Linked DNA regions of Homo sapiens: region 1 is linked to region 2. Evidence: fine-mapped expression QTL. A gene starts in region 2. The other region holds a variant in brackets. All regions are shown on one strand. Distances are between the middles of the regions.

Region 1 (16,164 bases), 150 kb before region 2:
GGAAGAGGCGGGCCGGCTGTGGTCGATGGTGACCGAGGAGGAGCGGCCCACGACGGCCGCAGGCACCAACCTGCACCGGCTGGTGCGTGGGATGACCAAGAGTTGGGGGCGGGGGGGCCCGGGGCCGGGGATGGTTGTGGGGGTCGCGCTCCAGCTCGCCCCGCCCCCTCTCGCCCGCCCAGGTGTGGGAGCTCCGCGAGCGTCTGGCCCGGATGCGGGGCTTCTGGGCCCGGCTGTCCCTGACGGTGTGCGGAGACTCTCGCATGGCAGCGGACGCCTCGCTGGAGGCGGCGCCCTGCTGGACCGGAGCCGGGCGGGGCCGGTGAGCCTCGGGGGCGTCGGGGGGCAGCAGGGGGCGGGACCGCGGCCGGGAGGGGCGGGGCCGCGCGCGCTAGCTGGCGCTTCGGGGCTGCTCTGCTCGCAGGTACTTGCCGCCAGTGGTCGGGGGCTCCCCGGCCGAGCAGGTCAACAACCCCGAGCTCAAGGTGGACGCCTCGGGCCCCGATGTCCCGACACGGCGGCGTCGGCTACAGCTCCGGGCGGCCACGGCCAGAATGAAAACGGCCGCACTGGGACACGACCTGGACGGGCAGGACGCGGGTGAGACCCCTGCATCCCTGAGCCTGAGCCCCGCCCACTGCCCTGAAGCCTCTCCCCTCTCCTGGTAGTTCCCGCCCGTGCCTCTGCTCTTAGCGTTCATTGATTAATTCACTAATTCATTCAACGAGCATTTATTGAGCGTTGCCCTGAAAGACTGGGGGTAACAGATCAATGAGGGGGTCTGTATCCTTTCAGGCCAGTAGGGGAGACACGAAAACATTCTTAAAGAACAGTGGGAAGCCCCTTATAATGGGCAAAGGGCAGTGGGAAAATGGGGGAGGGGGCAATTTGGGGGAGGCTGGGAAGCCAGGGTGGTGGGTGACATTGAGCTGGCTCCGCAGGGTGGAGTTTGCCAAACAGAGAAGCAAGGCACAGACACTCATTGTTTTCTTCTCTCCTTCTATCTGTCTGTCTCTGTCTCTCTTTGTCACTCTTCCCGCACCCCTCTTCCTGGCTGCTTTCTGCTTCTGTGTACTTCTGATTTTTCTGTTTTTTCCTGTTATCCTCTCTCCCCATCTGCCTGTTTTGTTTTTTTTTCTCTCTGTCTCACTGTCTCCCATCATGATCTCTCCCCCCATGTCTGCTGTCGGATCTCTCTCCTTCCTTCTCTCCCTGCCTTCCTGTCACTCATGGTCTTTCTCCCTTCCCCAACCCGGCATCCACCTGTGTCTCCCTCCCTTTCCTCTCTCTTTCTGTTTTTATCTCAATTTCTTTTCCTCCCTCTGTCTCCCTCTGCTTCTCCCTCCCATCCTGCTCTGTCCCTCTTCTTCCTTGCAGATGAGGATGCCAGCGGCTCTGGAGGGGGACAGCAGTATGCAGATGACTGGATGGCTGGGGCTGTGGCTCCCCCAGCCCGGCCTCCTCGGCCTCCATACCCTCCTAGAAGGGATGGTTCTGGGGGCAAAGGAGGAGGTGGCAGTGCCCGCTACAACCAGGGCCGGAGCAGGAGTGGGGGGGCATCTATTGGTTTTCACACCCAAACCATCCTCATTCTCTCCCTCTCAGCCCTGGCCCTGCTTGGACCTCGATAACGGGGGAGGGGTGCCCTAGCATCAGAAGGGTTCATGGCCCTTTCCCCTCCTCCCCCCTCAGCTGGGCCTGGGGAGGAGTCGAAGGGGGCTGCAGAGAGGGTAGAGAAGGGACTTTGCAGGTGAATGGCTGGGGCCCCAAATCCAGGAGATTTTCATCAGAGGTGGGTGGGTGTTCACAATATTTATTTTTTCATTTGGTAATGGGAGGGGGGCCTGGGGGTATTTATTTAGGAGGGAGTGTGGTTTCCTTAGAAGGTATAGTCTCTAGCCCTCTAAGGCTGGGGCTGGTGATCAGCCCCAACAGAGAAAATGAGGAGTTTAGAGTTGCAGCTGGGGAAGGGGTTTGAAGGAAGTTGGAAGTGGGGAGGGGTGGGGGCATCTGGTCTCAGAAATGGACCAGCTGGATGCAGGGCAGGGGACTGAGGGTGCTTGAGTAGGATGTGAGACTTCATGGGCCTGGGTTCTGTTGAGTTTTTTCAGTATCAATTTCTTAAACCAAATTTTAAAAAAAACAAGGTGGGGGGGTGCTCATCTCGTGACCTCTGCCACCCACATCCTTCACAAACTCCATGTTTCAGTGTTTGAGTCCATGTTTATTCTGCAAATAAATGGTAATGTATTGGACCCCATGTGTGGCTTCTGTGCTGTCACCATCAGTGCCTGAGCCCTGGCTCCTAGCAGAGGTCTCAGAGCCTCTGTGACTGGCTCATTTTCTGCCGGCTTTTCACTTCCCTTGGCACCTGTCCCCCAGGAGGCGGGCCTAGACAATAACCTCTGATCTCCAAATTGCCCACCCTCTGGGCCTCTGAGCATCTTCGTTTGTACAACAGGGAGAATTGTGGGGACCAAATAGAATCTGTGTGAAAAAGCACCTTGTCACCTGCAAAATGCTCTTTGAACATGAGGCTTTTTTTTTTTTTTTTTTGAGATAGAGTCTCGCTGTTGTCGCGAGGCTGGAGTGCAATGGCGCGATCTCAGTTCACTGCAACCTCCGCCTCCCCAGTTCAAATGATTCTCCTGCCTCAGCCTCCTGAGTAGCTGGGATTACAGGCGCCTGCCACCACAGTCAGCTAATTTTTGTATTTTTAGTAGAGACGGGGTTTCACCATGTTGGCCAGGCTGATCGCAAACTCCTGACCTCAAGCGATCCACCAGCCTTAGCCTCCCAAAGTGCTGGGATTACAGGCGTGAGCCACCGCACCCGGCCACGAAGCATTATTAAGGTGACCACACCACTGCCCCCTGCCTTCAGGATGGGAGGCCTTGTTCTCTGAGTGTCAGTCTCTGGCTACCTTGCCACGTCCTTGACAATGTCTGCTTTCAAATATCACTTTCTCCTTCCTTCCTTCTTTCTTTCCACCGCCTGAATGAATCTTTTGTTCTGCGGCAAGCCAAGAGAAAATGGTAGGATTGATTCCCAAGTGTGAAAGCGGGGGCGGAAGTGGTGTCTTCCAAGAGGAGTCTGGGTGCCCTGCCGAAGAGGGGAAGATGCAGCGAGGGAGAGACCTAGAACCGCGATCAAAGCTGCAGCAGCTGCTGGGGCTGGCGGCACAAAGGGAGGAGGGAGGAGCCTGGGCGCTGAGAAAGTTCTTGGGGAAAGTTGAGCTGAGCCAAGAGTCGGGCGGTGGCTGGGATGGGCGGGAGGGCCCGGCCCGATTTCCCTTGCTGCTCCCCTTGTGGCCTGGTGAGTGGGAAGTGAAACCAAGGATAGGACCAGTGGAGGGACCCTCTAATTTATGGGAGGAGACATGAGGGGTTCATGGAACCCCAGCGGGGGCAACTGGGCAGTCACCAAAGCTGGAGGGGACAGAGGGCTGGGATCTCCAATCATGGGAAGGGAGAGATGGATGGAAGGAAATGAAGAACTCTGGATAGGGGAGACGCGGCTAGACCCCAGGGGCTGTGATCAGGGAGGGAATTGGGGAGTGATGCCAGAGAGGGCAGGTCTCCGGGAGTAAAAGTGTGGCTTCTCTCTGCTTGGGGTTACCCCTGGCTCATCGGAGCAGGGAGCTGTCGGGGCTTGTTGGAGGGGCCGTGGTCCCTGATCGCGAGTTGTAATCTGAAGGGGCGGGGCTGGACTCCCGGTTGATTAGGAAGCTCGGGCTTCAGAAGGAACTCTGCAGTTAGTGTTTGCGCCTTTCTCCTTATCTTTGTGTCATAGTCTCTCTGTCCCTCTGTCTCTCTCTCTCTGTTTCTCTGTGTGTGTGTGTGTGTGTGTGTGTGTCTCTCTCTCTTTCTGTCTCCCTCTCCAGCCCCACCCTTTCAGTCTCCTCCGGGTGCACTGATAAGGTTGGAAAGTGGAATGGTGGGTAAGTCCAGGGATCTGGGCTTTATAAGTAGCCACACGTCTCCCCCAGCCCCTGTCATACATGGGGGTCTGCCCCGTGCTGAGACAGAGAAAAAAGAGGCGCGGGAATTTATAACCCAATGGCTCTTACCCATTGCAATGCCACTCCTGGAAGTCCAACCTCCCTTCCTCCTGCCTGGGTTCATACACCTGTGTCCTGTCTGATCCTCATTCCCACTGTATGGCTTCCCTTCCTGGTCCTGGGATAGGGCTCTTTATCCCCATCTGTGACAGCCAGAGGGGCTCTGGAGGAAACCAGGTTCCCGACCATGGTCTGACCTGACTGTGTTAATGAGCTGATTGATCTGATCTCTCTCTCTCTTGCTGGCTGTTTCATTCACGAGCTGGGGCTTTTTCTCTCCTTCCCTTATAAATCCCCAAGGCTCAGGGACAACTGTAGGTGGGGAGCGGGAGGAACTGGAGATAAGAAAGTGATAGAGCAGAGACAGTAGTTGTGGGGCCACCTAGGAGAGTCTGGGTATAGACAACATCCCCAGCCACTCCCCTTCCCTGAAGGAGGTCTCAGCTGCAGCAGGAGAGAAGGCTGCCTCTGCCTCTCTCCTTAGACTTCCCTTCTTCCCCCCTCATTTCCCTTCTAGACGCTGACAGAGGCAAAAATCTGCTAACTCAGGGGGCAGACTCAACCAAGACTGTGAGCAGGCCTGGGGAATGACCCCCCGATCTCCAACCAGTGCCTTCCGCAGCTGCACGGCTGTCTCCAGCTGTCTCTGCCCCTCTTCCTGGCCCTGGCTCCATCTCTCTGTCACCTCACCCTTCCCTGTGCCACATGGGCCCTCTCTCTCCTGCCAGGACGCTGCGGCTCTGGGGACCTCGGAGCCTGGGGGTGGCTCTGGGAGTCTTCATGACCATTGGCTTTGCACTCCAGCTCTTGGGAGGGCCCTTCCAGAGGAGGTGAGTTCCCACTTTGCCCCAACTCCTTCTAGACGCCCCGTACTTGCTCTTCCCCATCCCACCTGGGGCTGGTGACTCCTGAGGACTCAGAAGCCTCCATGCCCTCTGTCCCTTCTACCCATTTGCTGCTGAGGAACAGGACACTCCCCCTCCATCTCTTCCCAGGCTACCTGGGCTACAGCTCCGACAGCCCTCGGCCCCATCCCTACGACCAGCCCTTCCGTCCTGCCCACCCCGGCAGCGACTGGTGTTCCTGAAGACACATAAATCCGGGAGCAGCTCTGTGCTGAGCCTGCTTCACCGCTATGGGGACCAGCACGGGCTGCGCTTCGCCCTCCCTGCCCGCTACCAGTTTGGCTACCCAAAGCTCTTCCAGGCCTCTAGGGTAAAAGGCTACCGCCCACAGGGTGGAGGCACCCAGCTCCCCTTCCACATCCTCTGTCACCACATGAGGTTCAACCTGAAAGAGGTAAGGAGTGTCGCAGTGGTGGGAGGGACCAGAAACAGATGGGCTCAGGCTGACACCACCAAGGGAGGGGGCCCAGACCTGGGGGCTCCCCAGGCATCATCTCACCCTAAAGTTGGACATAGGGGCCACAAAGTTGGGCTCCCTGCCATCCTCTCTACAGGTGTCCCTTCCCCAGTAGTTTCTGGGAGCCCAAGTCCTCCTCCCTTCTCTCTCTGGCGCTTACTCCAGTCTCTCTCTTTCACCAATGTATTTCCCTGGCATCAGTGCCTTGCCAACTCTGAGCCCCCAACTCTCCCTCCAGGTGCCCCTTACTCTTCTGTTTTTAAATTATTTTTTGGAAGACAGGGTCTTACTCTGTCGCCCAGGCTGGAGTGCAGTGGCACAATCATAGCTCACTGCAGCCTTGACTTCCCAGGCTCAAGTGATCCTCCCACCTCAGCCTCCTGAGTAGCTATGGCTAAGGCATGTGCCACTACACGTGGCTACTTTTTAATTTTTTGTAGAGATGGGGTCTTGCTATGTTGCCCAGGCTGATCTCAAACCCCTGGGCTTAAATAAATAAATAAATAGTCCTGGGCTCAAGTGATCTGCTCACCTTGACCTCCCAAAGGGTTGGGATTACAGGAGTGAGCTTGCCCAGCCTGTGTGTGTGTGTGTGTGTGTGTGTGTGTGTGTGTGTGTGAGACAGGGTCTCATTCTGTCATCCAGGCTGGAATGCAGTGGTACAATTATAGCTCACTGTAACCTCAAACTCCTGGGCTCAAGCGATCCTCTCACCTCAGCCTCCCAACTAGCTGGGACTACAGGTGCATGCCACCACACCTGGCTATTTTTTTATTTTATTTTTTGTAGAGATGGAGTCTCACTATGTTGCCCAGGCTGGCCTCAAATGATCCTCCCACCTCAGCCTGGCAAGTACCTAGGACAACACGCCCCTTCCCTTTCTTAGCCTCCCTTTCACTGTCACACCAGGGCCCCACCTCCCCCACTGCCTTCTGACTTGTCTTCTTCAACCCCCTCACATTTTGAGGATCAGCTGTATTTTTAGCCCGGGACTAAGCCCAGCACTTTGGGAGACCAAGGTGGGCAGATCACCTGAGGTCAGAAGTTCGAGACCAGCCTGGCCAACATGGTGAAACCCTGTCTCTACTAAAAATACAAAAATTAGCCAGGCGTGGTGGCACACGCCTGTAATCCCAGCTACTCGGGAGGCTGAGGCAGGAGAATTGCTTGAACCCAGGAGGCAGAGGTTGCAGTGAGCCGAGATTGTGCCACTGCACTCCAGCCTGGGCAACAGAGCGAGACTCCATTTCACAAAAGAAAAAAAAGGCCGGGCGCAGTGGCTCACGCCTGTAATCCCAGCACTTTGGGAGGCCAAGGCGGGTGGATCACAAGGTCAGGAGATCGAGACCATCCTGGCTAACACAGTGAAACCCCGTTTCTACTAAAAATACAAAAAATTAGCCGGGCATGGTGGTGGGTGCCCGTAGTCCCAGCTACTCAGGAGGCTGAGGCAGGAAAATGGCATGAACCTGGGAGGCGGAGCTTGCAGTGAGCTGAGATCGTGCCACTGCACTCCAGCCTGGGTGACACAGTGAGACTCTGTCTCAAAAAAAAAAAAAAAAGGAAAGAAAGATAAATAAATAAAATTGAAAATTAAAGTGGCAGAGCTGGAAGTTGAGCCCAGGTCCATGCACTCCAAAGTCGAGGCTTCTTCCGAGGCTTGTGCATGTGTTTGTATCTGGAATGGTGAGAAGAATATTCACCAAAGAGGTGATGCTTTCTGGAGAGGGGGGTTTATTTTACTTTATTATTTAATTTTGATTTTTATTTTATTTATTTTGAGACAGAGTCTTGCTCTTTCCCCTGGGCTGGAGTGCAGTGGCACGATCTCAGCTCACTGCAACCTCTGCCTCCCGGGTTCAAGCAATTCTCATGCCTCCCAAGTAGCTGGGACTACAGGCACCCGCCACCACGCCTAGCTAATTTTTGTACTTTTAGTAGAGACAGGGTTTCGCCATGTTGACCAGGCTGGTCTCAAACTCCTGACCTCAAGTGATCCGCCCACCTCAGCCTCCCAAAATGCTGGGATTCCAGGTGTCAGCCACCGTGCCCAGCCGAGAGCGGGGGGTTTTAAAGGAAAAGGTGGATGTGGCTTGTGGTAAGGACAGCATGAGGCATTCTTAGAGGGAGCAAAACACCAGCAAGGACATGGTGGGGTGCACGTGTGTGTGTGCATGTAAGAGGGAGAACGTCTGTACTGGGGGTAGAAGTTCCACAGGGGCTGCAAAGTCACCCTTGTTGAAGCTGGAGCTGGAGACACCAGCTGAGGACATGGGCGTGCTCTGATGGGCAGCGAAAGGCCACTGCCAGGAGTGAGGCAATGACAGTGACCTTTGAGGTAGGTTTCTCCAGAGGCTAGGATGATGGCCTTCACTGACGCCACCATTCACTGAATACCTACCATGTTCCAGACACTTGCACATTCTTCCAGGTAAGTGTTACCCAGTTACTCAGATTTCTAGATGGAGGAATGATGGCTCTGAGACCTTCAATAACCCGCCCAAAGTCACAGAATTAGTAAATGGCAGAGTGGGATTTTATTCCAGGTCCAGATGCCAAAGACTGTTTTCTTCGCTTTCCCCTCTGCCTTCAAAGAGACCTGCAGGGCCAGGCATGGTGGCTCATGCCTGTGATCCGAGTGTTTTGGATGCTGAGGTGAGAGGATTACTTGAGCCCAGGAGTTCAACGCCAATCTGGGCAACATAGCAAGACCCCATCACTACAAAAAAATTAAAAATTAACAGGGAATGTTGGTGTGTGCCTGTAGTCCCAGCTATTCAGGAGGCTGAGATTGGGGAATCCCTTGAGCCCAGGAGTTTTCAAGGCTGCAGTGAGCTATGATATGCTGCCTAAGTGACAGAGCAAGGAGACACTGTCTCTTAAAAAATAGTAAGAAGAAAATAAACACTGAAAAGCTAAAATGCTCATTTCCTGTCCTCCCCCTCAAAAAAAAAAAAAAAAAAGAGAGTTCACAGGCTGCTATTCAGGTGTGCCATACTTGCAGAGCCGATTGAGGAACACCATGACAGACAGAAGTCAGATTCAATGATGGAAGTCATTTTTGGAGGCAGAAACCCTTCAAGGAGACTAGGAGCTAGGTTCTGACCTGCATCAGCCTGCAGGGCCACGTTAGGGTGTGGTGCAGCCTGATCTCCACCTTCATTCTTGCAGAGCGGTGTAATCACGTGTCCCAGCCCTCAGGGCAGCATCCTACCAGGCAGCCGTGGCTTCCCAGTGTCCCAGCCCAGGGTGTTTTTTGCCCTCTAGGATGCCCAGGAGACCCTGAAGTGCTTTACCCCTCAGCCATTCTGGGCCTGGCCTGCCCACCTGCTGCCTATGCCCGAGATGGCATTATAGTTGCTCCTTTGTTGCCAGTGATGCCCCCTCCCAGGCACTCAACAGGTTTTTGCTGGAGAAATGAGTACAAAGGTTGGTTCCTAGAGGTTTTACTGACCAAGGCAGACAGAAATGCCCGAGGAAATTAATGTTCTCCAGGAGTTTCCTATCCTCCAGGTTTCCGTCCCTCCCTTCTTTCTTTTTTTTTCTTTTTCTTTTTTTTCCCTTCCTTTTCCTCCCCTCCCCTCCCCTTTAAAATTAGTGCCCGGCTAATTTTTAAGTTCTGGGATACATGTGCAGAATATGCAGGTTTGTTACACAGGTATACATGTGCCACGGTGGTTTGCTGCACCTGTCAACCTGTCATCTAGGTTTTAAGCCTTGCATGCATTAGGCATTCATCCTCATGCTCTCTCTCTCTTCCTTTGCCCCTGACCCCGACAAGCCTCTCCTCTTCCCCCTCTCCCTCCCCTCTCCCCCCTCCCCTCCCCTCCCCTCCCCTCCTCTTCCCTTCCCTCCTTCCCTCTCTGGCTGCTTCTTTCTTTTTTTTTTTTTTTTGAGACAGAGTCTCACTTTGCTGCCCAGGCTGGAGTGCAGTGGCGCGATCTCGGCTCACTGCAACCTCTGCCACCCAGCTTCAAGCGATTCTCCTGCCTCAGC[C/T]TCCTGAGTAGCTGGGATTACAGGCGCCTGCCACCACGCCTGGCTAATTTTTATAGTTTTAGTAGAGATGTGGTTTCACCATCTTGGCCAGGCTGGTCTTGAACTCCTGACCTTGTGATCCACCCGCCTCAGCCTCCCAAAGTGCTGGGATTACAGGTGTGAGTCACTGCACCCGGCCCCTTTCTTTCAAGGCAGGGTCTTGCTGTGTTGCTCAGGCTTGTCTTGAACTCCTGGGCTTAAGCAATCCTACCACCTCAGCCTCTTGAGTAGCTGGGACTACAGGTGTGTACCAGGATACCGCGCTAATTTATTTTTATTTTAAGTTCTGGGATACATGTGCAGAACATGCAGGTTTGTTACATAGGTACACATGTGCCCTGGTGGTTTGATGCACTGATCAACACATCATCTAGGTTTTAAGCCCTGCAGGCATTAGGTATTCATCCTAATGCTCTCCCTCCCCTTGCTCCCCACCCCGACAGGCCCCAGTGTGTGATGCTCCCCTCCCTGTGTCCATGTGTTCTCACTGTTCAACTCCCACTTACTTATGAGTGAGAACACATGGTGTTTGGTTTTCTGTTCCTGTGTTAGTTTTGTTAGTTTACTGGAGTAGGTTAGTTTGCTGAGCATGATGATGGCTTCCAGCTTCATCCATGCACCTGCAAAGGACATTATCTCATTCTTTTCTATGGCTGCATAGTATTCCATGGTGTATATGTGCCACATTTTATTTATCCAGTCTATCATTGATTGACCTGCTAACTTTTTTAGTTTTTTTTTTTTTTTTTTTGAGACAGAGTCTTGCTCTGTTGGCCAGGCTGTCAAGTGCAGTGGCACGATCTCAGCTCACTGCAACCTCCGCCTCCTGGGCTCAAGCAATTCTCCTGCCTCAGCCTCCCGAGTAGCTGGGATTACAGGCGTGTGCCATCACACCTGGCTAATTTTTTTGTATTTTTAGTAGAGACGGGGTTTCACCATGTTGGCCAGGCTGGTCTCGAACTCCTGACCTCAAGTAATCCGCCCGCCTCGGCCTCCCAAAGTGCTGGGATTACAGGCTTGAGCCACCATGCCCGGCTTTTTAGTTTTATTTTTGTAGAGACAGGGTCTCGCTATGTTGCCCAGGCTGGCCTCGGCAACATAGCAATGCTCAAGCCATCCTACTGCCTCAGCCTCCTGAGTAGCTGGGACTACAGGCACACAAAACATGCCTGGCTCCATGCTCCAGATTTCTTGTATGTTTTATCTCATGTATCTTTCATAGTCACTTGAGAAAGTATGATTATCCCCATTTGCAGATAAGCAAATTGAGTCTCAGAGATGTTAAGTAACTTGCCACTCAGCAAGTGATGGAAGCTGGGGATTCCTAGCAGAGCTGGGAGGAGGAGGTTTCAGGAGGCTGGTCAGCGGACACATGGCTTGTGCATACTTATGCATACCTTCTCCCCAGCCCAGTTCTCTCTCTTCTGTCTTCCCTCCTCTGCAGGTACTTCAGGTCATGCCTTCTGACAGCTTCTTTTTTTCCATTGTCCGAGACCCAGCGGCTCTGGCTCGCTCTGCCTTCTCCTACTATAAATCCACCTCATCAGCCTTCCGCAAGTCACCATCTTTGGCTGCCTTCCTGGCCAATCCTCGAGGCTTCTACAGGCCTGGGGCCCGTGGGGACCACTACGCTCGCAACTTACTATGGTTTGACTTTGGCCTGCCCTTTCCCCCAGAGAAGAGGGCCAAGAGAGGGAATATTCATCCCCCCAGAGACCCCAACCCCCCACAGCTGCAGGTCTTGCCTTCTGGTGCTGGCCCTCGAGCCCAAACCCTCAATCCCAATGCCCTCATCCATCCTGTTTCCACTGTTACTGATCATCGCAGCCAGATATCAAGCCCTGCCTCTTTCGATTTGGGGTCTTCATCCTTCATCCAGTGGGGTCTGGCATGGCTGGACTCTGTCTTTGACCTGGTCATGGTGGCTGAGTACTTCGATGAGTCATTGGTTCTGCTGGCAGATGCCCTGTGCTGGGGTCTAGATGACGTGGTGGGCTTCATGCACAATGCCCAGGCTGGACATAAGCAGGGCCTCAGCACTGTCAGCAACAGTGGACTGACTGCGGAGGACCGGCAGCTGACTGCACGGGCCCGAGCCTGGAACAACCTGGACTGGGCTCTCTATGTCCACTTCAACCGCAGTCTCTGGGCACGGATAGAGAAATACGGCCAGGGCCGGCTGCAGACAGCTGTGGCCGAGCTCCGGGCTCGCCGAGAGGCCCTAGCGAAACATTGTCTGGTAGGGGGTGAGGCTTCTGACCCCAAATACATCACTGATCGCCGGTTCCGCCCCTTCCAGTTTGGGTCAGCTAAGGTTTTGGGCTATATACTTCGGAGTGGATTGAGCCCCCAAGACCAAGAGGAATGTGAGCGCCTAGCTACCCCTGAGCTCCAGTACAAGGACAAGCTGGATGCCAAGCAGTTCCCCCCTACCGTCTCACTGCCCCTCAAGACTTCAAGGCCACTCTCCCCATAAACATCAGACTACAGATTTAGGTGGAAGAGCAGCCATGTTTGAAGGGCACATGTGATGAGTGGGGGGCAGCAAGATGCCATTTCTGCATCTCCCAGAAGGGATGAGTCTTTGTCCCGATGCAAGCCCCCTCTTCGCTGGGCTCCCAGCAGTGCTTCCCTCCTCCACCCTCCACTCATTTTGTTCTTTCCCCCCAACTTTTTTTTTTTTTGAAACGGAGTCTTGCTCTGTCCCCCAGGCTGGAGTGCAGTGGCATGATCTCGGCTCACTGCAACCTCTGCCTCCCAGGTTCAAGCGATTCTCCTGCCTCAGCCTCCAGAGTAGCTAGGATTACAGATACGTGCCACCATACCCGGCTAATTTTTATATTTTTAGAGACAGGGATTCAACATGTTGGTTAGGCTGGTCTTGAACTCCTCACCTCAGGTGATCCACATGACTCTGCCTCCCAAAGTGCTGCCATTACAGGCGTGAGCCACTAGGCCTGACCTCCCCTTCCCCTTTCCTGCCCCAAGGCAGATCCACATCACCGAAGCTCCCTAGAGGGGCAAAAGATGGAGTGAGCCACAGGAAGTTTGGGGCGTGGTGAGTTGGAATGATACGTCCATTTCTCTATGAAATATTTGCTACTAGACTGTTCATTTCTCTCTGACATGTTTGTTGAATGAATAAATAATTTGAAACTTCTACTTGATTTATGGAGGGTGGAAAGGGGAGGGATGGAGAATCTTCCTGGGAGAAGTGGGGTTGGAAGGGTTGTTTTTTTTTTTTTTTCCGAGACAAGATCTCACTCTGTCACCTAGGCTGCAGTCCAGTGTCCCAATCATAGCTCACTTCAGCCTCAAACTCCTGGGCTCAAAGGATCCTCCTGCCTAGGCCTTCTAAGTAGCTGGGAATACAGGCGCGCGCCACCGCGCCCGGATAATTTTTAAATTTTTTGCAGAGAGGAGTTCTTGCTATGTTGGCCAGGGTGGTCTTGAACTCCTGGCCTCAAGCGATCCTGCCGCCTCGGCCTCCCACAGTGCTGGGATTACTGGCGTGAGCCAACCCGCCTGGCCGACGAGGTCTTCCATTTCTTTTCCAAGAAGCCTGGCCGCAGCCCCCGCCTGCATTCTCGCAGCCTCAGAGCAGCGGGACCCCGCCCCCTCCTCCACGGTCCGGGCACCCGCAGATTCCGGGGCCTCGGCGGCCACGCCCCCTCCCTTCCGCTTCCTGTTTCTCTCCAGTCATTCGGCTCAGTACCCCGGTTCCGGCGCTGCCGGGTCTCGGTTCGGGTTCGTTGCCCCGGTGCCGGGACCGGGCCGGTCTCTCCGGCCGCCCCAGCCGGGCGCAGCAGCCGGAGGTGTCGGGACCCTCTGGACCCACCCTAGCGGGCCCCGCCGGCGGTCGGCCTCCGGTCCGGGCTCCCAGTCGCGCCGTCCTCGCCGCCCCATGGAGTCCCAGTGCGACTACTCGATGTACTTCCCGGCCGTGCCGCTGCCGCCGCGCGCGGAGCTGGCAGGGGATCCGGGCCGGTACCGGGCGCTGCCCCGGCGCAACCATCTGTACTTGGGGGAGACTGTCCGTTTTCTGCTGGTGTTGCGCTGCCGGGGCGGTGCGGGGTCCGGCACCGGGGGCGGCCCGGGCTTGGGCTCCAGAGGAGCCTGGGCAGAACTGGCAACCGCCCTGGCCGCCCTGGCCTCGGTCAGCGCCGGAGGCGGGATGCCGGGGGGCGGCGGCGCCGGCGACCAGGATTCGGAGCCCCCAGGGGGAGGGGATCCTGGGGGTGGGGGTTTGTTCCGAGGCTGCAGCCCCCTTCTCACCCACGGCCCGGGCCCTGCTACCTCAGGGGGAGCGACCACGGTGAGGAGCTTTGGGGGACCTGGCACAGGACGGAGGGGCGGTTTGCTGGGGGCCTGAGGCAGGAGGCAGATGAACTGCCGGTCTTAAAGGGAAAGGCTGCAGGCTGCCTCTGACTTGCTCCTGACCTCTTCACCCCTTTCCCAACCCCAGCTGCCTGTGGAGGAACCGATTGTGTCCACAGATGAGGTCATCTTCCCACTCACCGTTTCACTGGATAGACTGCCCCCAGGGACACCTAAGGCCAAGGTAAGATGAGCAAGAGTGGAGCTATTGTCCTAATTCAGACACCTTTTCCGGGCTCAGCCATCTGTCTTTCCTCTTGACAGATTGTAGTGACTGTGTGGAAGCGGGAGATTGAGGCACCAGAGGTCAGAGATCAAGGCTACCTGCGATTGCTGCAGACCCGATCTCCTGGGGAGACATTCCGGGGCGAGCAGAGCGCTTTCAAGGCCCAAGGTGGGCAGGGCAGCGCAGAGGCAAAGGGCTAGAGTCTGGGAATTGGGGGACAGAGGGGAGGGGTCACACTGGAAAGTGGCTAATGGGCTCTGAGAAGAGGAAGGTGAGAATTCTGGGTTGGAGGTGAGGTCAGCCTCCAGACCATCACTTCTTGCCCCCACCCCCTCCCGCAGTGAGCACGCTGCTGACTCTGCTGCCCCCTCCGGTTCTGAGATGCCGGCAGTTCACTGTGGCTGGAAAACACTTGACCGTGCTCAAGGGTAAGCAGGGCTGCCGGCTCCAGCCTCCGGGAGCAACAAGGGAACTGATTGGATGCAGTTCCTCTGGGCAGGCTGGTGGGGTAGGTCCGGTTTTTTCTGGGTAAAGGTGGGGCCTGAGGGGTCCAGCTATTCTGAGCCAAGCTGGTCCTCTCCCACAGTGCTGAACAGCTCCTCTCAGGAGGAAATCTCCATCTGGGATATCCGAATCCTCCCCAACTTCAACGCCAGTTATCTACCTGTCATGCCCGATGGCTCTGTGCTGCTGGTGGACAATGTCTGGTGAGGTCCTGGGAGGGGCGAGGCTGTGAAGTGGTGGGGATGGCTTCAGGGGCTGAGCTCTGGCATGGGGAGACCATGCCTTGTCCTCTTTTCTGAGCTAGTCACCAGTCTGGGGAAGTCTCCATGGGCTCCTTCTGCCGCCTACCCGGGACCTCTGGCTGCTTCCCCTGCCCGCTGAATGCCCTGGAGGAACACAACTTCCTGTTTCAGCTGAGAGGGGGTGAGCAGCCCCCTCCAGGGGCCAAGGAGGTGAGCATAAGGGGCTGGTGTGTTCAAAGAAAAGTGATAAGGCAGTGGGAGGGAAAGACCAGGCAGCTGACTCAAGATGGGAGGGGCACTCTTAATACCTGTGCCAACCCCCTTTGTCCCTCCTGCAGGGCCTGGAAGTTCCCCTGATTGCTGTGGTTCAGTGGTCTACCCCAAAGCTGCCCTTCACTCAGAGCATCTACACCCACTACCGGTGAGTGTGGATCCTGGAGGAATCGTGGCGTTCGCCTTTGTGGCCTGACACACACAGCCAGCATCCCTCTCTCACCACTCCTAGCCTGCCCAGTGTCCGCTTGGACCGCCCGTGTTTTGTGATGACCGCTTCTTGTAAGTCCCCTGTTCGGACCTACGAGCGTTTCACTGTCACCTACACGCTGCTTAACAATCTCCAAGACTTCCTTGCTGTGAGGCTCGTGTGGACCCCAGAGCATGCACAGGCTGGTAGGTCAGCTGCCAGGTAGGAATTTGGTCCCCAGGGAGGGGAAGAGAAAGGAAAAAGTCAGGGAGGCAGGACAGTGAAAACAGCCAAATTTGGTGCCAGCCCCATCACAGGAGGCGACTTGTGGCAGGTGGCTTCCGCCCTGTACCTGGGTGGTCTCCCCAGTGTCCTAGATGGAGAGTTTAGAGAGGCAGTGGGGCAGAGTGACTTTCAGGGCATAGACACTGGAGCTGCACTCGCTGGTGTGAACTCTACTTCTCTCCTTTACTAGCTGTGTGACCTTGAATAAGTTACTTAACCTCTCTGGGCCTCAGAGTCCTCACCTTTAAAATAGAGCAACTCATATCTGATGGGGCTGTCATGCAGATACTGAGTTAATATACGTGACGTGCCTTGCACACAGTACGTATTAGCTGTTGTTATCTACAACATGCACAAAAGATAACGTTTGCTCAGTTTACTCCACAGAGTGGCTTTGAGAATCAGATGAGACTGTGCTGGCGAAGGCCCTGTGGGAATGAGGAACGCTGTAGTGTTTGCTGGTCCCTGTTTCTGCCCCCAGGAAAGCAGCTGTGTGAGGAGGAGCGCCGGGCCATGCAGGCTGCCCTGGACTCCGTCGTCTGCCACACGCCCCTCAACAACCTTGGCTTTTCCCGGAAGGGCAGCGCGCTCACCTTCAGTGTGGCCTTCC
Region 2 (16,164 bases):
ATGGTAGCTCATGCCTATAATTCCAGCCCTTTGGGAGGATGAGGCAGGAGGATGCTTGAAGCCAGAAGTTTGAGACCAGCCTGGGCAACATAGCAAGACCCTGTCCCTATGAAAAAGAAAAAAATTAGCTGGGCATGGGGACTGTGTCTGCAGTCACAGCTACTCAGGAGGCTAAGGTGGGAGGATTGCATGAAACCAGAAGTTTGAGGCTGCAGTCAGCTACGATCACGCCACTGCATTCCAGCCTGGGTGACAGAGCAAAGCCCTATCAGGAAAAGGAAAAAAAAAAAAAAAAAGATTCTTATAGAGAAACTGCAATTACAGGACACACTAATAATATAAACAGATGTGAACAAGAAGAAAATGGCACAGATGAAGCTTCTATCTAGAGTAAGGTTTTAGCCACATTAGGAGGTAAAAACCAATGTCAGTCTAAATCAAAGAAAAAGTCACCAATGAGTAATCAGCTTCTTTAAAGAAAGTGTGAAGAAAGGGCAATTACAGGAACAGCTGTATGAAATGGTTCCATTGTTATGTAATTTAACTGCCAAAAATGATGTCAAGTATCCAGGAAAAACCCATCTATGTTCACATTTTAGAAACTTGGGGCTGGGTGAGGTGGCTCATGCCTGTAATACCAGCACTTTGGGAGGCTGAGGCAGGGAGCAGGGGGCCACCTGCGGTCAGGAGTTCAAGACCAGCTTGGCCATCATCGTGAAACCCCGTCTCTACTAAAAATACAAAAAATTAGCTGGGCATGGTAGCAGGCGCCTGTAATCCCAGCTATTTGGGAGACTGAGGCAGGAGAATCGCTTGAACCCAGGAGGCTGAGGTTGCAGTGAACTGAGATCACGCCATTGCACTCCAGCCTGGGTAACAAAGTGAGACTCCATCTCAAAAAAAAAAAAAAAAAAAAAAGGAAAAAAAAAAGAAACTTGGAAATATTTTCTAACCTGTTTAAAAATCTTTCAAATGAAGAATTTCAGGTGGGTCTTAAGCCTATTTGTTAAAAATATAAAATGCCACCACCTGATTAGTTTGTAAGACTATACCCTGCATTTCAACAACAAAAATTCAGCATGGTTGATAGGTTGGATCAATCACAAGTTACTAAGCAGAACTGACACTGTGATTCTTCCATCTGAAGCTACAAATCTTTCTGAATTTATTCTTTTCACCTCTACAGCCATCAAAACTAAGCATCAAATTGAAGTTTTAGAAACAGACCATTAAACTGCTTTATCATGATGGGTTAAACCGAGTTTTAAACTAGCAAAAGCATTTTTAGTTTTATGGCTCTCACTAAACATATTCTTAATTTTGGTGAAAAAGGGATCATGTACATATAACAGCACAAAAATTATATATACATATATATTGAAACGGAGTCTTGCTCTATCGCCCAGGCTGGAGTGCAATGGCATGATCTCAGCTCACTGCAACATCCGCCTCTCGGGTTCAAGTAATTCTCCTGCCTCAGCCTCCTGAGTAGCTGGGATTACAGGCCATACTTATTTTTTTTAATCTAGTTCCATGAAGTCCAGCTTCCTTTCTTTGGTTCCCTGCCTTCATTTTCTCCCTTCTCTCCCACAATCCACCTTTCAGATTATTCTTTCTAAAACTCTACAGCCTTGCAGTTAATACTTTCCAGTGCCTGGTCCCAATTTTCCCTCAAGCTTCTTTTCCCATCAATCCCCCCATAAACCTTCCCTATGCAACAAAAGCCCTCTCATCAGTATTTCCTATATATGCCTTGTATTTTGACTGCCATCCTTTCCTCACATCACACTCCATGCCTGGGACTTCCCCCCGCAGTCCTCTCTGCCTTTTCAAATCCTACTTAACCTTTAAAGCTAGCTAAAACGCGACTTGCCTCTTATCACTGTTCAAGAACCCTCTCATAACTATAACAGTAAGAGCCAATGTTTACTGAGTGCTTTCTAGGTACCGGGTATTTAAGCATTTTCACTTGACCACATAACAATCTTAGCAGGTAGCTACACTTATCATCTCACTGTATAAAGAACTGAGAGGCTGAGCGCAGCGGCTCATGCCTGTCATCCCAGCACTTTGGGAGGCCAAGGCAGATAGATAACCTGAGGTCAGGAGTTCGAGACCAGCCTGGATAACATGGCAAAACCCCATCTCTACTAAAAATACAAAAATTAGCCAGGTGTGGTGGTGCAATGCCTGTAGTCCCAGCTACTCGGGAGGCTGAGGCAGGAGAGTTGCTTCAACCTGGGAGGCGGAGGCTGCAGTGAGCTGAGATTACACCACTGCACTCCAGTCTGGGCAACAGAGTGAGACTCCATCTCAAAAAAAAACAAAAGAAGAACTGAGATATACTGCCATTAAATAACTTACTCAAGGTCACACAGCAAGTATATGGTAGAGGCAGAATTTGAAATAAAAGTGATTCCCCAATGTAAACTCTTTAACCATTATACAAAATTTATCTTGTACCTGACATGTGGGGTATACAGATCCTAAAATGAAGGCCTATGAACGTGACAATGAAGAATCAATCAGGGCCAGGCACGGTAGCTCACGCCTGTAATCCCAGCACTTTGGGATGCCAAGGAGGGTCGATCACCTGAGCTGAGGAGCTCGGGACCAGCCTGGCCAACATGACGAAACCCCGTCTCTACTAAAAATACAAAAATTAGCTGGATGTGTGGCACATACCTGTAATCTCAGCTACTCGGGAGGCTGAGGCAGGAGAATCACTTGAACCTGGGAGGTGGAGGGTGCAGTGAGCTGAGAACGCGCCACTGCACTCCAGCCTGGGTGACAGAGAGAGACTCCTTCTCAAAGAGAAAAAAAAATCACTCAGGAACGGGCCTTATCTACCACCCAGTTTTCACTGGAGGGTCACTATGTGACTGAAGCCCTTCCTGGGAAAGGGAGGAGACACAGCAGAAGATTCAAGTGGGGACTGTCTACAACATAACCAGGTGGGATCTTCAAACATGGTAACTGAGCAGAACTAGTGTGATAGCGAGCCCAGCCACCAGAAATCCCTACTTTTGTGAAAGTTTTATCCTGCCTTAGCTATTGAGCAGGACACTTCTTGGGTCAGTGCGAAGATGCGACTCTAAGGAGGAAATGAGTCCAGGGGGAAATAGACACAGACATGGGCACATTCCCTCTGCCCACAACTGGGACAGATCCTCCTCCTCACCTTCAGTATCTCTCTGCTCCTACTCTGGGGTGCAGGGAAAAGCCATCACAGCAGTGGAAAGGCTGGGTTTTATTTGAGGTTTCCCAGATGATCTGAGCACATACTCTTCTGTCTCTAAAGGCCCTAATACTCTTCACCAAACATTTGCTAGGTAATTTCTCATGATGCGCCGGGCGCAGTGGCTCATGCCTGTAATCCTAGCACTTTGGGAGGCTGAGGTGGGCGGATCACGAGGTGAGGAGATCGAGACCATCCTGGTAACACGATGAAACCCCGTCTCTACTAAAAATATAAAAAATTAGCTGGGTGTGGTGGCGGGCGCCTGTAGTCCCAGCTACTTGGGAGGCTGAGGCAGGAGAATGGCGTGAACCCGGGAGGCTGCGATTGCGCCACTGCACTCCAGCCTGGGTGACAGAGCGAGACTCTGTCTCAAAAAAAAAAAAAAAATTTCTCATGATGTTTCTTTCTCTGTAATTTTTCTTGCCTTCTTCCTCAACTAGATTATTAAGAGCAGTCCTCTTTGTACTCCTTAGACCACTTAGCATGATTCCTTGCAAGCCTCAGTTTCAAAAATACACTTGACTGAATTGACAACGTTACTATTTTTTAAAAGCCCGATCATTCTACATTCAATGTTGCACTCAAATTTGTTCCATGGACTAGTTGGATGAGTTTCAGGTTAGCATTAAAGCTGCTCCACCCCTTACTAGTTGACGGCCTTAGGCAAGTCAACAAGTTAACCTCTCTATGCGTCAGTTTCCTCATCTGTATAATGGGAATAAAAATCAGCATTTGTCCCATAGAGTTGCCGTGAGGATTAAATGAGGTAATAGATATAAAGCACTTAAAATAGTGCCTGGCATTTAGTAGGCACTACAGAAATGTCTTAATTTTTTTCAATAAGCTTAAAAGATGTAACTGTACATTCCAATTTTCAGCCTGCTTAGAAGATTAAGCAATGGGACAACTCCTGTAATAGTGAAAGCTGCACAGGCAATAACTGAATTCTAGTCTCCCACAAGTAAGTGGCACATCCCTGAGAGAGGTATTTAACTTCTCTGGCATTTTGTATCTTTATCAGTCAAATGGGGGTAGGGTGGGGGTTCCAGATAGTAGGAAACTACCTCTGGGTGAATATGGGCTGAAAAACATACTGACATACCATCCACTTTAAATAAAATTACCTCCAGCAGCTAAGGATACCTCAGTTCTCACCTAGGATAAACAGAAATGATTTTCTTAAACAACGGCTTGAAGTTACAAGCTCAAAGGCTGTGTTCCAAACAGCCCAGTATTTTTCCAGGGCATAGTCTTGAAAATGTAAACAAAGGCTGGGCACACAGTGGCTCACGCCCGTAATCCCAGCACTTTGGGAGGCTGAGGTTGGCGGACTGCCTGAGATCAGGCGTTCGAGACCAGCCTGGCCAACATGGCGAAACTCTGTCTCTACTAAAAATACAAAAATCAGCCAAGCCTTGGGACACATGCCTGTAGTCCCAGCTATTCGGGAGGCGGAGGCAGGAGGATCGCTTGAACTCGGGAGGCAGAGGTTGCAGTAAGCCGAGATCGCACCACTGCACTCCAGCCTGGGCGACAGAGCAAGACTCTGTCTCAAAAAAAAAAAAATTTTTTTTTAAATAAATTGCCCTTTGCCCTTTACACTCATTTTTTTAAAGAGCAATCAAATGTTTTAATATGAAAAAGCTACCTTAAAAGACAGCTAGCTATTCAAAGAATATTGATACTCCCACAGAATGAAAATGTTAGATTTAATATGCTATTCATCTGTATTTTAAATGCTTTTAAATCGAGAATGAGCAAAAGACTAAGTAGCTAGCTTCCTCGTTTGTATTTTAAGAGTGGTGAAAACTGCCTGAAATAATAAACAAGAATCTTATATGTTAATTCAGAGAAGATACAAACCTGGATACACATTCTGGGGCAAATCACCATGGTTTCCTATGTAAAACAGCGATTTCTCCACATTTGTTCAGCATATATACTAACAGTGCTTTGCTGATGTGGTTACAATGAATTCTCCACAATTCAATTCAACAAGTATTTATTGACCGCCTCCAATCCGCCTAGCACTGGCCCGTACAATAAATGCTTTCTTTGGTCCCAGGCCATGGAACAGCCACTCTCTATAATGAAAGTATCTTACTGTGTACAGGGGGCACTGCAGGAAAGGGAGGGGAGGGATGGAGGAGTGTCAAGCTAAACTGTAGTTAATTCTTCAATTACATTGACCAAATCATTTCGAAGTCGGAAGGGCCTTTTGAGAAAATCCAGTTAGTTTTTATTGATGACGAAATTAAGACTTGGTGAGTGTCTCGTCTTATCCAAGGTCACTCAGCTAATCAGTCTCCTAGTGACACAGTGCAATTTCCACAAATTCCCTTCACTTCTCACCCCACTCCATGTCAAACAGAGCAACTATCCAGAATTGAAAAATCCACCTAACGTCCCGGACAGCTCTTTTCCAAAGCCTTCAAAGCATTCCATCAAGCTGAAAGAGTGGGGTGTATATAATCTCTACTAGATCCCAATCACCTATTTATCCACTATGACTAGGCTTCAAATACTCTTTAATCACCGCTCAGTGATGAGGGTGGGAGAAGGAAAGGCAGGTCTGGAAACGTATGCGGCACCTCAAAATGTGTCCATCTCTCATCCTTCCGCTCATTTCACCTCGAGGTCCCGAAGGAACCGGGGGGGGAAAAAGACACCTCACCGGAATCAAAGCAAATGGCGACTAAGGGAGAGCAGAAAAATCAAGACCGGGGTCGGTTCGCTCGCGACCCCGTTTGCAGAAACGTCAAAGGGCGATGACGACACTGCGGGAGAGGGGCCCACAGACGGCTTCTCCCCGGGTCTCCGGGCACCCTCAGCCACTGAAACCCTCGCCCCCTCCCCGCCTGATCCTGGGGGTGGGGCGGGGACGTCTCCCAGGAAGAACGGCGCTTTCTACGGCCGGGCCCGGCCAGGAGGCAGGGGCATGGACTCTCTTCGCACAACAGCGGGGCCGCCTGGAGGGGGTCCCAGGGCCGCAGCTGCGGAGCCCACCCTCGCGCACACACCCTTGCGGCCCCGCCCTCCCACCCCAGAGGCCGGCCCCAAGTCTCACCGTGAGCCCCGGGAGCGGCCTGGGGGCGCTGGGCGAGAAAGGGGAGCTGACTCTGGGGCTCAGGCCGGCCGAAGGGCACCGCACACGGACTTAGGCCCTCCCGACGCCTCGACACAGACACAATGAGTCACAAAGGCCGGAAGCGTGTCACCACCTCGTCTTCCGGGACCGCGCCGCGCTTCCGGGTCCTCTCTAGGAGCGCGGGAGGACTTTGCATCTCGGTTTCCGAATCGCTGGACCAGGCGCCTGCCCTTGAGTTTTCAAGCCTCCAGCTTGGAGGATCAGGTCCCAGTCCGCCCCTAGTTAATGCAGGGACTAACGGGAGCAGGTGGTGGGGGGTTTCAGGCTTTCCCCTACTCAAACTCAAACAGACTCTCCAGCTCAGACACCAGTCCATGTGAAAGTTCGATTTCACCTGTCTTTTTCATCTCAGGCAGTCCTTGTAGTAATTATAGTTATTATCAAGCAATATAGTACTTGGTAATTGTATGTCTGTGGCAAAGGAACTGAAACAAGGATGTAGACTGAGGAAGATCAAAGTGAAGCCAAGGGTGGCTGGTTTCCCAAAGCTGCCACGGTAGCTTCTCTCAGGGCCCTGGAGCTATATGGAGTGGTATTTTCAAATACTTGGCCCGTGGACAAGGGATGTCTTTCCACAAGCAAGCATAGTTATAAGGTTCTGTGCTTTGCTCATGTGGCATATGCTATTATAGCCGTTTAAAAGGAGTTTTCAGAGTAACAACAGACACTTTTACCTTCAAAGTGCTTTCACAACCTACCACAGTTACAGCCTTCATCTTTGCCTTGCAGGGTAAGGCACGCATAAGAGGGGGCCACGTTGTGCAAGGGTGGGGGGGACTACAGGCTTTAATGGTTGTGACTTTCCACTATGTTCCGAGACAAGTTCATGGGAGAAACTCAGTAGCTTGGTTGCATGACTCTTACTGCTTGGAGAGATTTACTTTTTTTTTTTAGATGGAGTCTCGCTCTGTCACCCAGCCTGCAGTGCAGTGGCACCATCTTGGCTCACTGCAACCTCCACCTCCCAGGTTCAAGCGATTCTCCTGCCTTAGCCTCCTGAGTACCTGGGACTACAGGCGCACACCACCATGCCTGGTTAATTTTTGTATTTTTGGTAGAGAACAGGGTTTCACCATATTGGCCAGGATGGTCTCGATCTACTGACCTTGTGATCCACCCGCCTCAGCCTCCCAAAGTGCTGGAATTACAGGCGTGAGCCACCGTGCCCGGCCAGATTTACTTTTTAAAAAATGTTTGAAAACTAAAAAGCAATGACAGGGCCAGACACGATGACTCAAGCCTGTAATCTTAGCACTTCGGGAGGCTGGGACGGGAGGATTCTTGAGCCCAAGAGTTGGAGACCAGCCTAAGCAACGTAATGAGACCCTCTCTCTACAAAAAATACTAAAATTAGCTGGGTGCAGGGTAGTGTGTGCCAGTGGTCCCAGCTGCTTGGGAGGCTGAGGTAGAAGGATAGATTGAGCCCAGGAGGTTGAGGCTGCAGTGAGCTATGATTGTGCCATTGCACCCCAGTCTGGGCCACAGAGCAAGATCCCATCTCAAAAAAGAAAAAAAGGGCCGGGCACGGTGGCTCATGCCTGTAATCCCAGCAGTTTGGGAGGCCAAGGTGGGTGGATCACGAAGTCAAGAGATTGAGATCATCCTGGCCCATATGGTGAAACCCCGTCTCTACTAAAAATACAAAAATTAGCTGGGCGTGGTGGCACACGCCTATAGTCCCAGCTACTTGGGAGGCTGAGGCAGGAGAATCGCTTGAACTCCAGAGGCGGAGGCTGCAGTGAGCCGAGATCGTGCCACTGCTCTCCAGCCTGGGGACAGAGCTAGACTCTGTATCCAAAAAAGAAGCAACAACAGTATCATTAAAGGAAATTTGCAAAATGGAGAAAAATAATTACCGGTAATCTCTCCACCCTAACACAATCCCCATGGCTTTAGTTTACCTTTTTCCTGTTTTCATATACAAATAAATATTTATTGATATTATTTTAAACACTGTTCAAAACCATAGTTGCAGTTGTATTGAAGAGGAGGCTGGTATCCTGGAAGTATCTGCTACATTCATATCATGTGAACACTGTTTTTTAAGGAAGAGAAAATATATTTACTATTCAGTAAGTGGAAATAGATCATCATCAAGGTCTTCATACTCATCGTCTTCACACTGAGTAAGCTGAGGAGGAAGAGGAAGGGTTGCTCTTGCTGTCTCAGGGGTGGCAGAGGCAGGAAGTGATCCACCAGCCTCGGCCTCCCAAAGTGCTAGGATTACAGGTGTGAGTCACTGCACCTGGCCTCTTTTCTTTCTTTTTTTTTGAGAGAGTTTCCCTCAGTTGCCATGTTGGAGTGCAATGGCGTGATCTCAGCTCACTGCAACCTCCGCCTCCTGGGCTCAAGTGATTCTCATGCCTCAGCCTCCCAAGTAGCTAGGATTACAGGTGTGCACTCACCATGCCTGGCTAATTTGTGTATTTTTAGTAGAGATGGGGTTTTACCATGTTGGCCATGCTGGTCTCGAACTCCTGGCCTCAAGTGATCCACCCACCTCAGCCTCTCAAAGTGCTGGGATTACAAGTGTGAGCCACCGCGCCTGGCCTCGACATCTTTGATTACTTCCTAAGGATGGATTCCAAGAAATGAGATTACTGGTCCCACAGATAGTCAGAGGGAATATAGGCAATAACGTTTGTAACCCCAGGGTTCTAGACCTGTCAGCAAACAAGCTCAGCTGACAAGATCAGGTGGTATCCACCCAAGAGTTTTGAAAGGACTCTAAGATGAAAGTGTTGAAAGAATCATGAAACTAATGATTTATGATTACAAAGAGACATTGTGCTTAAAAATTGGCTGGCTGCCCTGAACAAATAAAAGTTCCTGAAGGGCACCCTAGAAACTGTGGTTGCCTAAGTTTGACTTCTGTGTTGTGAAAGCTGGTGGAGTCAATGCTGAAGGGGAGCCCGGGTTTGCGGCTGTGACTGGGTGGCTGCAGCTACTCCTGGGAGGGAGGGTCTCCTGTCCCTCCAACTTGGAAGGAGTGGGGGCTTCCATGTGTTCCCAGCTCCCTCCAGCTCTGTGGAGTGCTGCGATCCCAGCTATGCCTCACTCACTGCAGCCAGCATCATGGCAGTGGCCACTCCAGATGGGGTGCTGCTGCCAAGGCGGGCAGATCACCTGAGGTCAGGAGCTCGGGACCAGCCTGACCAACACGGAGAAACCCCGCCTCTACTAAAAATACAAAATTAGCTGGGCATGGTGGTGCATGCCTGTAATCCCAGCTACTCAGTAGGCTGAGGTAGGAGAATCGCTTGAACCCAGGAGGCAGAGGTTGCGGTGAGCCGAGATTGAACCATTGCACTCCAGCCTGGGCAATAAGAGCGAAACTCTGTCTTAAAAAAAACAAAACAAAACAAAAAAAACAAACCCAAGTCTTATATCTGATTCCAAAGGTCCCATTTTACTGAGTCTTCTTCTTTCTTCTTGACGGAGTTTTTGCTTTTGTCACCGAGGCTGGGATCACTGCAACCTCCGCCTCCCAGGTTCAAGCGATTCTCCTGCCTCAGCCTCCCACGTAGCTGGGATTAAAGGCGTGTGCCACCTGCCTGACTAGTTTTTGTATTTGTAGTAGAGATGGGATTTTGCCATGTTGGCCAGGCTGGTGTCGAACTCCTGACCTCCAGCGATCCGCCCACCTCGGCCTCCCAAAGTGTTGGGATTATAGGCGTGAGCCACCGTGCCCAGCCTGAGTTTTCTTTACTGTCGGCTAGGGCTGTGGCTGGGGAACCTGCTGTGGGAAGGGTACTTTCATCTATGCTTTTCCTCCTCCCCTTCCCTCTCCCTGGGGTGGCAGGAGTGAGTGATCTGACTGTTGGAGACACCTTCCCTCTCTATTTTCCTATTGGAAGCTGTGGCTTCTCTGTTGTGTTGAGCAAAGTGGACGGATAGGGAGAGGGTCAAAAATCTCTTACTTAACTGACTATTCTCTCCTGTTGGTTGTTGCTCTTCCCTCGGTAACACAGTGTTCCAGCTACTTAAGCAGCAAAACAAATTATTCAACAATTTCGTGGGTGAAAGCAATGACAACATTGTTTATTTTGCTCCTAAATCTTCCATTTGGTGGAGGGATCCACATGGATGGCTCATCTATGCTCCACCTGGCTCCTCTGGGGGGCCTCAAAGGTTGGACCATCTGAAGGCTCGCCAGCTCCTAAGATTGGTGATTGGTCTGGCTGTCAGCGGAGATCTTAGCTGGGGCAGTGGATCTGAACATGTGCAGGTGGTCTCTTCATGTGCTCTGGGCTTCCTCACAGGATGGTGGCTGGGGTCCAAGGACAAGTATCCAGAGAGAGAGAGAGGAGGAAGGAAGGAAGGAAGGAAGGAAAGGGAAGGGAAGGGAAGGAAGGAAGGAAGGAAGGAAGGAAGAGCAGGTGAGCGGGCAGGCAGGTAGGGAGGGAGGGAGGAAAGGAAGGAAGGAAGGCAGGGAGGGAGGGAGGGAAAGAAGGAAAGGGGAGGGAGGGAAAGAAGGAAAGAAAGGGAGGGAGGGAGGGAGTGAAGGAAGGAAGGAAAGGAAAGGGAAGGGAATGGAAGGGAGGGAAGGAAGGAGGTACGGGAAGGAAGGAAGTGGAGTGGGTGACAGAGAGACAGAGGGGACAGGTGAATGAAGGCCACATGTCCTTTATAACCTAATCTTAGAAGCACTCAGCATCCCTTTCACTGCATTCAATGCCTTGAGGCAGTCATAAAGTCACACCTAGTTTCAGGGGAAGGGAAAATATGTTCCCCCCTCTTTTCTTCTTTTTTTTATGACACGGGGTCTCACTCTTGTCACCCAGGCTGGAGTACAATCATGACTCGCTGCAGCCTCGACCTCCTGGGCTCAAGTGATCCTCCACCCTCATCTTCCCGTGTAGCTGGGACTACAGGCATGAGCAACTATGCCCGGCTAATGTTTAAATTTTTTTTGTAGAGATGGGGGTTTCACTATGTTGCCCAGGCTGGTCTCAAACTCCTGGGTTCAAGCAATCCTTCCACCTCAGCCTCTTGAGTAGCTGGGAGTACAGGTGCACGCCACCACACCCAGCTAATTTTATTTTATTTTTTGTTAGAGATGGGGTCTCACTATGTTGCCTAAGCTGGTCTTAAACTCCTGGGCTAAAGGGATACTCCTGCCTTGGCCTCCCAAAGTGCTGGTTTTACAGGCACCATGCCTGGCGATGCCACCTTTTTTTTTTTTTTTGAGACTAAGTCTCACTTTTGTCGCCCAGGCTAGAGCGCAGTAACGCGATCTTGGCTCACTGCAACCTCCACCTCCCGGGTTCAAGCAATCCTCCTGCCTCAGCCTCCTGAGTAGCTGGGATTACAGGTGCCTGCCACTGTGCCCGGCTAATTTTTGTATTTTTAGTAGAGACGGCCATGTTGGCCAGGCTGGTCTTGAACTCCTGACCTCAGGTGATCTGCCCACCTTGGCCTCCTAAAGGGCTGGGATTACAGGCGTGAGCCATGGCACCCAGCCAGATGCCACCTTTTGATGGGAAGTGATGTGGTTCTGGAATTGCATGTGGGACCAAAAACGCTGCCAAGGTCACTTTTGGAAAACACAGTCTACCGCTACTGTGCGTCAGCCACACAAACGTTGGCTTGTGGTGTTCAGGGATGAAATCCTCAGGGGGCCTTGGGGGCCTGCTTACTACTCAGTCCCCTGTCCCAGTCGATCTGCCTTCTGCCCCTAGCAGGGCACTGCACAACCTCCTTTTGAGGAGATTCTTGGGTGGGGGCACCAGTTGGACAACTCAAGTCCAGCTACCTGCTCCTGGGTCCATTTGATCTGTGACAAACTCAGGCACCCTTGGCCACTCAAATGGCTGGAACGTGGACCTCCTGCGGTGCTCCTGCCCCTCCCTGGCCACCTTCCCCTCTTAGTGAATGGAACGTGGACCTCCTGTGGTGCTCCTGCCCCTCCCTGGCCACCTTCCCCTCTTAGTGGCTTTGTTGAATCACCCGCCACCTGCCTAGGCACGAGAGTCTCCTATTTAAAATAATGCTCAACTAGAGGTTGAGGGTTTTTTTGTTTTTGTTTTTGTTTTTGAGTCTTGCCCTGTCGCCAGGCTGGAGTGCAGTGGCGTGATCTCGGCTCACTGCAATTTCCGCCTCCTGGGTTCAAGTGATTCTCCTGCCTCAGCCTCCTGAGTAGCTGGGACTACAGGCCTGTGCTTCCACACCTAGCTAATTTTTGTATTTTTAGTAGAGATGGGGTTTCACCATGTTGGCCAGGATGGTCTTGATCTCCTGACCTTGTGATCTGCCTGCCTCGGCCTCCCAAAGTGCTGGGATTACAGGTGTGAGCCACTGTGCCTGGCCGAGGATGAGGTTTTTTGTAGATATGGAGTCTCCCTGGTGACTGGGATTCCTGCCCGCCCTGCCCCCTGCTCTTTTTTTTTTTTTTTTTGAGATGGAGTCTCCCTCTGTTGTGCAGGCTGGAGTGCAGAGTGCAGTGGTGCAATCTCAGCTCACTCCAACCTCTGCTTCCCGGTTCAAGTGATTCTCCTGCCTCAGCCTCCCCAGTAGCTGGGGTTACAGGTGCATGCCACTACGCCCAGCTAATTTTTTGTATTTTCAGTAGATATGAGACTTCTCCATGTTGGCCAGGCTGGTCTTGAACTCCTGGCCTCAAGTGATCTGCCCACCTCAGCCTCCCAAAGTGCTGGGATCACAGGTGAGAGACACCGCACCCAGCCTCTGTCCCCAGGTTTTGAAGACATTCTCACTTGTCTTCATGGTGAGGGGGCAAGGGAACCAGTCATGGAGGAGGAGAGGGAAGCCCCCACCAATAGGCAGAAGGCAAAGTCCTTTCTCTTTGGCTTCTACCAAGTCCTTTCTCTCTTTCTTGCTGCTTTCGTCCAGACTTGAGGAGCAGAAAAACTGGCTGAGCAAGCAAAGCTCGCGAGCGTTTCTGCCTGTCACGTAGGTGGCATCTGGGATCTTTGATGTGCCGTGCTGTGGGCTGGGAGTGTCCTCCTGAAGTTTTTCCTTCTTTGTTCTCAGCTATGGACTCCAGCCACGGACAACAGAGTCCTAGCCCACGTCCAGTCACATGACTGCAAAAGCACCTGCGTCTGGATACGGATGTTTATGAGAACATTGGTGCCTAATCAAATCAAATCAAAACAAACCAAACAGCCCCTAGCCTTGTGGCCTCATTCCCAAGTCAGCCCAAGCCATATCCTTCCTAGCTATGGTGTATAGTAGAGGGGCGCAGGACTCAGATGGTCTTGGTTCTCATCTTGTCTGTACCATGTACTCTTGGTCTAGTTACTTGAACTTTTGGAGCCTCAGTTTCTCTAAGTGTAAAATGAGGATTCAAACAGCACCTACCTCATTGGGATGTCATGAGGCTTGCATGATGGAGTTGATTCATGTAAATCAGCAGTTGCAGGGTCTGGCATTGGACACAGATGAATTTAGGGCTGTGGGCTGTTGACTGACCCTTGGGCTTGAGTGACATGTGTGGCTCCATCCTGAAGCTCTTTTCTAGCAGTGCTGAGGTGGGAGGAGGGACTTGACTCTGCAGGTGGGGCTTGGACAGTGGACCAAATTGAGGATTAGCTAAAATGGGGCCAGGGCAGAAGCAGCTTTCCATAAGACATGCCCACCAGAGTGCCATGTCAGTTTACCGTTGCCATGGCAACACCCGGGAGTTACCACCCCTTTCCATGGCAATGAGCTGACAACCTAGAAGTTACTACCTCTTCCCTAGTAATTTCTGCACTAACTGCCCCTTAATCTACACGTAATTAAAAGTAGGTAGGCCAGGTGTGGTGGCTCACACTCACACCTGTAATTCCAGCACTTTGGGAGGCCGAGATAGGTGGATCACTTGAGGTCAGGAGTTCGAGACCAGCCTGGCCAACATGGTGAAACCCCATTTCTACTAAAAATACAAAAATCAGCCGGGTGTGGTGGTGCACGCCTGCATTCCCAGCCACTCCGGAGGCTGAGGAATGAGAATCGGTTAAGCCCAGGAGGCAGACGTTGCAGTGAGCCAATATCGCGCCACTGTACACTGTACTCCGGCCTGGGCAACAGAGGGAGACTCTGTCTCAAACAAAACAAAACAAAACAAAACCCCAAAAAACAAAAAATAATCTATGGTGGTGCTGAATGTAGACAGAGAAGAGCCAGTGTGGTTGTTCACGTCTGTAATCCCAGCTACTCGGGAGGCTGAGGTGGGAGGAGGGCTTGAGCCCAGGAGTTTAAGACCAGCTTGGGCAACACAGTGAGACTCCATCTCAAAAAAAAAACAAACAAACGAAACAAAAACAAAAACAAAAAACCAGTGACTGTAGAGAGAGAATAAAGTGGTTGGGGGAAAAGAAGTCAGGGCTTCAAAGTAGAAAGAGTACTGAAAACTTATAAATAGCACTTTATCAGGAAGGTAATGAAAGACCTGAATGTAGGTTGGTTAAAAGCATGATAGCAGGAAGAATCCAGGCACATTGAAGATGAAGACAGAAAAAAACAAACAAGCCACATTTAGCAATTTCAGCAGGAAATGAACACAGATCCTACGGGGAGGCGAAGTTAACTTGTAAATGAGACTCTGTATGAAGGTACCTCTATATACATTTGCGTAAAACTAGTTTAAAAGCTGCAAAACACAGTCACACAGTTGTTACAGAAACGTGATCACTAAAGAATAAATTGGGGTTGGGGCAGGGCATGGTGGCTAACGCCTGTGATCCCAGCATTTTGAGAGGCTGAGGCAGGTGGATCGCTTGAGGTCAGGAGTTCGAGACCAGCCTGGCCAACATGGCGAAACCCTGTCTCTACTAAAATACAAAATAATTAGCCACGCGTGGTGGCACATGCCTGTAATTTCAGCTACTTGGGAGGCTGAGGAACAAGAATCACTTGAACCCCGGAGGAGGAGAGATTGTGCCACTGCGCTTTAGCCTGGGCAACAGAGTGAGACTCTGTCTCAAAATAAATAAAATACAGGCTGGGCGCAGTGGCCCATGCCTGTAATTGCAGCACTTTGGGAGGCCAAGGTGGGTGGATCACTTGAGGTCAGGAGTTCGAGACCAGGTTGGTTAACATGGTGAAACCCTCTCTCTACTAAAAATATTTTAAAAATTAGCCAGGTGTGGTGGTGCGCACCTGTAATCCCAGTTACTCAGGAGGCTGAGGCAGAAGGATCACTTGAACCTGGGAGGTGGAGGTTGCAATGAGCCGAGATTGCGCCACTGCACTCCAGCCTGGGGAACAAGAGCAAAAACTCTGTCTAAAAAAAAAAAAAAAAAAAAAGGGCCAGGCATGGTGGCTCATGCCTGTAATCTCAGCACTTCGAGAGGCTGAGGTGGGCGGGCGGATCATGAGGTCAAGCGATTGAGATCATCCTGGCCAACATGATGAAACCCAGTCTCTACTAAAAATACAAAAATTAGCTGGGTGTGGTGGCGGGCGCCTGTAGTCCCAGCTACTTGGGAGGCTGAGGCAGGAGAATCGCTTGAATCTGGGGGGTAGAGGTTGCAGTGAGCCAAGATCATGCCACTGCACTCCAGCCTGGCGACAGAGCGAGACTCCATCTCAAAAAAAAATATATATATGTGTGTGTGTGTGTGTGTGTGTGTGTGTGTGTGTGTGTGTGTGTAAACAATAAATACATAAATTGAGGAGAAGGCAGGGGAACCAGGATTTGACAGTGACAAGAAAGAAAAGCCCAGGAGGACCTGGTGGCTGAGCCAGATGCTGGGGCTGGACTAAGGGTGATGGGAGCAGAGCTGGGACCTTTGGGTGGCAGAGAAGTTCTAATCAGTGAAACTGGGCA

What was found.
Region 1: its variant is fine-mapped to the expression of ZKSCAN1 in whole blood (INTERVAL, PIP above 0.99).

Annotation. Positions count from the first base shown.
Region 1 is chr7:100,155,697-100,171,860 of GRCh38, reverse strand. It overlaps GAL3ST4 (galactose-3-O-sulfotransferase 4), which reads left to right and starts at 3,244. Exons shown (of 4, transcript NM_024637.5): 1 at 3,244-3,315; 2 at 4,578-4,890; 3 at 5,056-5,359; 4 at 10,902-12,617. The coding sequence starts at 4,766. The coding sequence ends at 11,933. TRAPPC14 (trafficking protein particle complex subunit 14) reads left to right here and starts at 13,138. Exons shown (of 11, transcript NM_018275.5): 1 at 13,138-13,772; 2 at 13,923-14,018; 3 at 14,099-14,228; 4 at 14,402-14,488; 5 at 14,647-14,767; 6 at 14,869-15,016; 7 at 15,145-15,227; 8 at 15,312-15,475; 9 at 16,036-16,164. The coding sequence starts at 13,362. GPC2 (glypican 2) reads left to right here. Exons shown (of 10, transcript NM_152742.3): 7 at 1-82; 8 at 183-322; 9 at 425-600; 10 at 1,378-2,255. The coding sequence ends at 1,631. It overlaps MIR4658 (microRNA 4658), which reads left to right and starts at 15,192; the gene lies at 15,192-15,256. RefSeq lists silencers at 1-38, 179-398, 13,004-13,643, 13,674-13,823, 13,855-14,031 and an enhancer at 11,058-11,557. The variant C/T (reference allele first, on the strand shown) is at 9,419.
Region 2 is chr7:100,005,871-100,022,034 of GRCh38, reverse strand. It overlaps ZKSCAN1 (zinc finger with KRAB and SCAN domains 1), which reads right to left and starts at 6,439. Exons shown (of 6, transcript NM_003439.4): 1 at 6,309-6,439. LOC105375423 (a long non-coding RNA gene) reads right to left here. Exons shown (of 3, transcript NR_159960.1): 3 at 10,401-10,659. RefSeq lists a silencer at 6,184-6,353 and enhancers at 11,614-12,113, 13,831-14,331, 14,332-14,832.